Homo sapiens: one gene and its partner. The protein of the gene in region 2 purifies or fractionates together with the protein of the main gene of each other region. This does not show direct contact. Each region holds a gene or a part of one and is shown on either strand. Other genes may lie near its edges.

Region 1 (3,920 bases), on a different chromosome or scaffold from region 2:
GACTGGTTTGTTGCTCTTCTCATTCTTCCTTCTTAGTTTTTATTTTTGTTGCAGGAGCATAATATTAGATTAGGCCCCCATTAACGGGCACGTATGAAGTTAAGCAATGTTATAGTTTCCTATGCATGTTTATGTACCCACTGGTCCACCCCTCTGCTCTCATAGGATGATTTTACAATGTGTAAAATGTTTGATTTTAATACAGTATGCAAAGTATATTTACGATATTTTATTTAAAAGCTTTATTGGTCCAAGATCATATTACTTGGGCTTGAGATGTGTGAACGTATGAGCTACTGAATTTTTTTTTTTGAGACAGAGTTTTCCTCTTGTCGCCGAGGCTGGAGTGCAATGGCGTGATCTCGGCTCACTGCAGCCTCCACCTCCTGGGTTCAGGTGATGATTCTCCTGCCTCAGCCTCCTGAGTAGCTGGGATTACAGGTGCCCGCCACCACGCCCAGCTGATTTTTGTATTTTTAGTAGAGATGGGGTTTCACCATGTTGGCCAGGCTGGTCTCGAACTCCTGACCTCAGGTGATCCACCTGCCTCAGCCTCCCAAAGTGCTGGGATCACAGGCAGGAGCCACTGTGCCTGGCTGAGCTTTTGATCTTTAACCAGTGTGATACAACATTTGTTTCTGTGCTTTTCAAGAAATCCTGTCTCATGGTAACCTGGGTGTTGATCTCGTGCTTTAGTTAGTAGCTTCTCCAAGGAGAAGGCGTGTTGAGGTTTAGTTGGAAAAATGGGCTTCTTTGATGGGTCTCACAGTTTTGGTGAGCCGGGATAGCTTGATAGGGTTTTGTTTTTTTTTTTTTTGAGTCAGAGCCTTGCTCTGTCACCCAGGCTGGAGTGCAGTGGCACAATCTGGGCTCACTGCAACCTCTGCCTCCTGGGTTCAAGCGATTCTCTTGCCTCAGCATCCTGAGTAGCTGGGATTACAGGCATGCACCACCATGCCTGGTTAATTTTTTTTATTTTTAGTAGAGACAGGGTTTCTCCATGTTGGCCAGGCTGGGTCTCGAACTCCTGACCTCCAGTGATCTGCCTGTCTTGGTGTTCCAAAGTGCTAGGATTACAGGCATGAGCCACCACGCCCAACCAGCTTGATAGTTTTTGTTTATTCAACAAATATTGAGCACCTGCTGTATGCTAGGCATTGTGCAAGGTGTTAGGGCTGATGCTTGAGCACAGTACCTCCACATCTGCAGTATGGGGAGAGAGAGATGATACCGTGATGAGATCTGTATTAGAGCTGTGACAAGGTGCTGTGGGAACACAGGATTTGTTACATATTCTTAATTTCTTTGGCCACTTAAACAGTTTACTTTTGTGGCACTTTAGAGTGGCTGTGCCCCTGGACGTTGTATACTGAAGTTACATTTACAAATGTAAACTCTCTGATCTAGGTGAAGTAGCTTCAAATAGAAGTGAGCAATATATTTGAATACTAAATTGATCTCTAAATGACCTCTGATGTGTCTTTTTAACTTGAAGATTGAGCATAAGGCTAATGTCCAGATCTGTCTGTTTAAATGGTCCCCCCACCCCCGCCTCCCGTAAGTCAGTAAGTTTGTATTCAAATTTTACATAGTTAAGCTCACTGATCTTTGGATTAGGGTTGTTGTTCTGTTTTTAGGTTCGTGATGGCTGTATTCAAGTATACTTTTGATGGAGTAGGGCATAAGTGATAAGAATGAGTGACATTCAACATGTTGCTGTCTAGACCCAACTTAAAGTCATGTAACTAAGGTATCAGAAAACTTTAATACAGTAACCTATCTGTTTAATAGGAAATTCTACCTTTAACATAGAAAGAAGTTCTCTGTACAGAAAAAGAAATTTACCTATTTCCAGTTTTTTTGTTTGTTTTTGAGAGGGTCTCACTCTCTAGCCTAGGCTGGAGTGCAGTGGCACGATCTCGGCTCACCTCAACCTCCATCTCCCAGTCTCAAGCAATTCTCCTGCCTCAGCCTATAGATAGCTGGGATTACAGGCGTGCGCCACTACCACCCTGTTAATTTTTGTATTTTTAGTAGAGATGGGGTTTTACCATGTTGGACAGGTTGGTCTTGAACTCCTGACCTCAAATGATCCACCTGCCTCTGCCTCCCAGAGTGTTGGGATTACAGGCATGAGCCACTGCACCCAGCTTTATTTCCAGTTGTTTTTATTCCATTAGTTGTTTTTTTTTTGAGACAGAGTTTTGCTCTGTCAACCAGGCTGGAGTGCAGTAGCACAATCTCGGCGCACTGCAATCTCTGCCTCCCGGGTTCAAGCTATTCTCCTGCCTCAGCCTCCTGAGTAGCTGGGACTATAGGCACCTGCTACCATGCCCAGCTAATTTTTGTATTTTTAGTAGATGGGGTTTCACCATATTGGCCAGGCTGATCTCGAACTCCCGACCTTGTGATGTGCCTGCCTCGGCCTCCCAAAGTGCTGGGATTATAGGTGTGAGCCACTGTGCCCAGCTTAAGTAGTCGTATGTTACTTTGATATTTCCAGTCACGGTAAGTATATTGATTACAATGAATTTGTTATTTGAGGACTAGCAGGAGAGTATTTTTTTTTTCCATAACAAAGAAACTTGAAGAAAAAAATTAATTCTGTAGTTTGCAGAGCCGGGAAAAGAAAATCTCCATTTCGTATGACTTCTTTTTTTTTTGAGACAGAGATTCACTCTTGTTGCCCAGGCTGGAGTGCAGTGGCGCGATCTCAGCTCACTGCAACCTCCGCTTCCTGGGTTCAAGCAATTCTCGTGCCTCAGCCTCCCGAGTAGCTGGGATTACAGGCACGTGCCACCATACCCGGCTAATTTTTTGTATTTTTAGTAGAGATGGAGTTTCACCGTGTTGGCCAGGCTGGTCTCGAAATCCTGACCTCAGGTGATCCACCCGCCTCAGCCTCCCGAAGTGCTGGGATTATAGGTGTGAGCCATCGCGCCCAGCCTTTGTATTACTTCTTTTACCAGTAAGACATCGTACCTCTCAGACTATTGATTTGAAATGGGGGTGTGGAGGGGATGATGATACTGGGAGAAAAGGGTGCTTTTGGAAAAACTCCTCTCCCTGGCTTTGAATTCTCATTTTGGATCATTATTTCCCAATAAGAATATCACTGTGTTAGGGCCAGGCACGGTGGCTCACGCCTGTAATCCCAGCACTTTGGGAGGCTAAAGCAGGCAGATCACGAGGTCAGGAGATCGAGACCATCCTGGCTAACACGGTGAAACCCCATCTCTATTAAAAAATACAAAAAATTAGCTGAGCTTGGTGGTGGGTGCCTGTAATCCCAGCTACCTGGGAGGCTGAGGCAGGAGAATGGCTGAGCCCGGGAGGCGGGGCTTGCAGTGAGCCTGGGCGACAGAGCAAGGCTCCGTCTCAAAAAACAAAACAAAACAAAAAAAGAATATCACTGTGTTGATGACAGCTTTGTTTTTCAAAGATCAAAAAAGATTTCAGCCCCTGCAGCTCCAAATAAGAGAGCAGAGTGACTTCCCTGTGATGGTGCCATCTAGTGGGACTGGTTCAGCCTCTTGGGCTGTCTCTTGAATTTCTCCTAACTATTCATAACATTTTTCAGTACTTTTTGATGTCCATAGAAGGAAGAAAGTCAGTGCCACTGTGGATTCTTTCCTAGTGGACAAGAGTGTTACAAGTAGCTACAGCCTTTGAACTTTCTGGTTGTTGTAAATCTTCTGTTGTATAACTTTCGAGTTTTTTCCACCTGCAAATTAGATATACACTCCATTACTTAGACTAAAACAAAATGGCCAAATCTCCACATCTATTACTTATATTTAAGTTGCTCATTACCTATATTTAGGTTTTTAATTTTTTATTTCTAATTTTCTTGCATAGTGCAAATTTTTAATTTTCTTGCATAGTGTGTTTATAGGTAGGTACTCAGTTTCTCAGCATAT
Region 2 (3,920 bases):
GACATATAATCTTGTTTCACAGCATTCTTAGAAACATGCAGTTCTTAGAAACTGTTTCATGGATATGGTTTGTTAAAAGTTATGGTAACCAATTACATATACAGGCATACCTTAGAGATATTGCAGAGTCAGTTCTAGACCACCACAATAAAGTAAATATAGCAATAAAGCAAGTGACATGAATTTTTTGTTTCCCTGTGCATATAAAAGTTATGTTTATACTATACTGTAGTCTGTTAAGTGTGTAATAGCATTATGTCTAAAAAAAGTACATACCTTAATTTAAAAATACTTTATTGCTAAAAAAATGATAACGATCATCTGAGCCTTTATCAAGTTATAACCTGCTTGCTGGAAGAGTGTCTTGCCTTGTCATTGATGGCTGCTGACTGATCAGGGTGGTGGTTGCTGAAGGTTGGGGTGGCTATGGCAATTTCTTAAAATAAGACAACAGTGAAGTTTGCCACGTCAATTGACTCTTCCTTTCACGAAAGATTTCTGTGTAAAACGTGATGCTATTTGATTGCATTTTACCCACAGTAGAACTTCTTTCAAAATTGGAGTCAACCCCATCAAACTCTGCTGCTGCTTTATTAATAAGTTTATAGAATATTCTAAATCCTTTGCTGTTATTTGAACAATGTTCACAGCATTTTACCAGGAATAGATTCCATTCTCAAGAAACTACTTTCTTTGCGTATTCATAAGAAGTAGCTCCTCATCTATTCAAATTTTATCACGAGATTGTAGCAATTGAGTCACATATTTAGGATTCACCTCCAATTCTAATTCTCTTGCTGTTTCCACTACCTCTGCAGTTACTTCCTTCACTGAAGTCTTGAACCCCTCAATGTCATCCATGAGGGTTGTAACCCACTTCTTCCAAACTCCTGTTAATGTTGATATTTTGACCTCCTCCCATGCATGAATCATGAATGTTCTTAATGGCATCTAGAATGGTGAATCCTTTCCAAAAAGCTTTCAGTTTACTTTGGCCAGATCCATGAAAGGAGTTACTGTCTTTGGCTGCTACAGCCTTACAAAATCTATTTCTTAATTAATAAGAGTTAAAAGTTGAAATTACTCCTTGTTCCATGGGCTGCAGAATGGATGTTGTGTTAGCAGGCATGAAAATAACATTCATCTTGTGTTCTCCATCAGAGCTCTTGGGTGACCAAGTGCATTGTCAATGAGCAGTAATATTTTGAAAGAAATCTCTTTTTTTTCTTAGTACATCTCAGCAGTGGGCTTAAGATATTCAGTAAACAGATGTGCTGTGAGCCAGGCTTTGTTATTCCATTTATAGATCACAGGCAGAGTCAATTTAGCATAATTCTTAAGTGCCATAGGATTTTTGGAATGGTAAATGAACACTGGCTTCAACTTAAAGTTACCACCCTCATTAGTCCCTAACAAGAGAATCAGCCTGTACTTTGAGCTTTAAAGCCAGGTATTGACTTCTCCTGTCTAGCTAGCAAAGTCTTAAATGGCATCATCTTCTTCCAATATAAGATTTATTTGAAGAAAGGGGTCTCTGCCTTTTAAAATGTGTTTGATCATAATTTTACCCGACATGGGAGGTTTCAGAATGAAAACCCAAAGATACAGGAAAAACTGTCCATTTTTGTGCTTAGGTTCAACGAAGTATGGACAGCTATGTAGAACTGTGATCAGAATAAAGGGCATGAGCTAATGCAAACAGACTGAGTGGGAAAACTCAGCAAGGACTGTCTGTTCAGATTTTTCTTGGCCTCTCTGTGAAGGATTTCTTCTCATGGGTATGGGGTAGGACCTCTCTGGAATGAGGGTCTTAATTTCTTTATGGCCAGCTATTACACAGAAAGGTGGTGGTGGGAAAGGTTAGAGTAACATTTTTAGACTTTATGGCTGGTTTTGGGGAAAAGAGGCTCTAGTTTCTATGACCCATTTTAGGGAAGAGGGATTCTAGTTTCTCTTTCTTTCTTTCTTTCCTTTCTTTCTTTCTTTCTTTCTTTCTTTCTTTCTTTTTTTTTTTTTTTTTGAGACAGAGTCTTGCTCTGTCGCCCAGGCTGTAGTGCAGTGGCGCCCTCTGGGTTCACTGCACCCTCTGCCTCCTGGGTTCAAGCAATTCTACTCCTCAGCTTCCCCCATAGGTGGGATTACAGGTGCCCGCCACTATGCCGGGCTAATTTTTATATTTTTAGTAGAGATGGGGTTTCACTATGTAGGCCAGTCTGGTCTCAAACTCCTGACCTCAAGTGATCCGCCTACCTTGGCCTCCCAAAGGCCTGGGATTACACGCATGGGCCACTGCACCTGGCCAACACATTGTTTAAGCTCTTAGAATTCAGGAAACATTTTGGTGAGCCTTGAAGGCCATTTAATGTCACTTCAGAAAACAATCTAATTATAACTATTTTCTTCCTCTTTTTTATTCATTGCAAAATTCCCATTGTAAGGTTATTAGTCTAATTTCAATATCGTTATTAAGTCTTTTTTTTCTGAGATGGAGTATCGCTCCGTCACCCAGGCTGGAGTGCAGTGGCACAATCTCAGTTCACTGCAACCTCTGCCTCCTAGGTGTAAGTGAGTCTCGTGCCTTAGCCTCCCAAATATCTGGGGTTATAGGGATGCCCTACCATGCCCGGCTAATTTTTTGTATTTTTAGTAGAGATGTGGTTTCACCATGTTGGCCAGGCTGGTTTGAAACTCCTGACTTCAAGTGATCCTCCCATCTCGGCCTTCCAAAGTGTTGGCATTACAGGCGTGAGCTACCGCGCCTAGCCAAATATTGTTATTAAGTCTTATATGGGCAGTTCATGGTGCCCACAAACAATTACAATAGTAGCATCAAAGACCACTGATTGCAGATCATCATAACAGATATAATAATAATAATGAAAAAGTTTGGAATATTTTAAGAATTGCCAAAATGTGACACAGACACAAAATGAGCACTTGCTGTTGGAAAAATGGCACCAGTAGACTTGTTCAATAGAGTTGCCATAAACCTTCAATTTGCAAAAAATTTAATGTCTGCAAAGCACAATAAAGCAAAGTACAATAAAATGAGGTATGCCTGTAATTTAAAAATATGTAACATAGAATCTTAGGACAGTATATACTACCATATACTGTTTCTTTGTAATCCTGACCTTAGTAATCTGTGGCTTGTTTTTTCCTTAATGAATGTGAAAATGCAGGAACACATTCTTCTTTTTTTTTAGACGAGGTTTTGCTCTGTCACCCAGGATGGAGTGCAGTGGCACAATCATGGCTCACTGCAGCCTTGACCTCTTGGGCTCAAGCAATCCTCCTGCCTCAGCCTACCAAGTAGCTAGGACCATAGGCGTGTGCCATCATGCCAGGCTGATTTTTTTACTTTTTGTAGAGACGGGGTCTTTCTATATTGCCCAGGCTGGTCTTGAACTCCTGGCCTCAAGTGATTCTCCCACCTTGGCCTCCCAAAATGCTGGGATTACAGGTGTGAGCCACTGCACTTGGCCTCTTTTTTTTTTTTAATTAAAAAAAAGTGGCCGGGCGCGGTGGCTCACGCCTGTAATCCCAGCACTTTGGGAGGCTGAGGCGGGCGGATCACGAGGTCAGGAGATCGAGACCATCCCGGCTAAAACGGTGAAACCCCGTCTCTACTAAAAATACAAAAAAAATTAGCCGGGCGTAGTGGCGGGCGCCTGTAGTCCCAGCTACTTGGGAGGCTGAGGCAGGAGAATGGCGTGAACCCGGGAGGCGGAGCTTGCAGTGAGCCGAGATCCCGCCACTGCACTCCAGCCTGGGCGACAGAGCGAGACTCCGTCTCAAAAAAAAAAAAAAGTTTAATGGCAGGCAAAAATTATCTGTATTTATGGTGTAGAAGATGATGTTTTGATATATCTATACATTGTGAAATGGCTAAATCAAGTTATTTAACATATGTATTACCT

Evidence for each region.
Region 1: the proteins of SPATA1 (region 2) and TLK2 purify together in Homo sapiens (affinity purification with mass spectrometry; 2 studies listed by BioGRID and IntAct, with this or other methods). This does not show direct contact.

What each region holds. Positions count from the first base shown.
Region 1 is NC_000017.11:62,481,651-62,485,570, forward strand, and holds part of TLK2 (serine/threonine-protein kinase tousled-like 2), read left to right. Parts: intron 1-3,920. UniProt on the Homo sapiens protein: Serine/threonine-protein kinase involved in the process of chromatin assembly and probably also DNA replication, transcription, repair, and chromosome segregation. Phosphorylates the chromatin assembly factors ASF1A and ASF1B.
Region 2 is NC_000001.11:84,558,184-84,562,103, reverse strand, and holds part of SPATA1 (spermatogenesis-associated protein 1), read right to left. Parts: intron 1-3,920.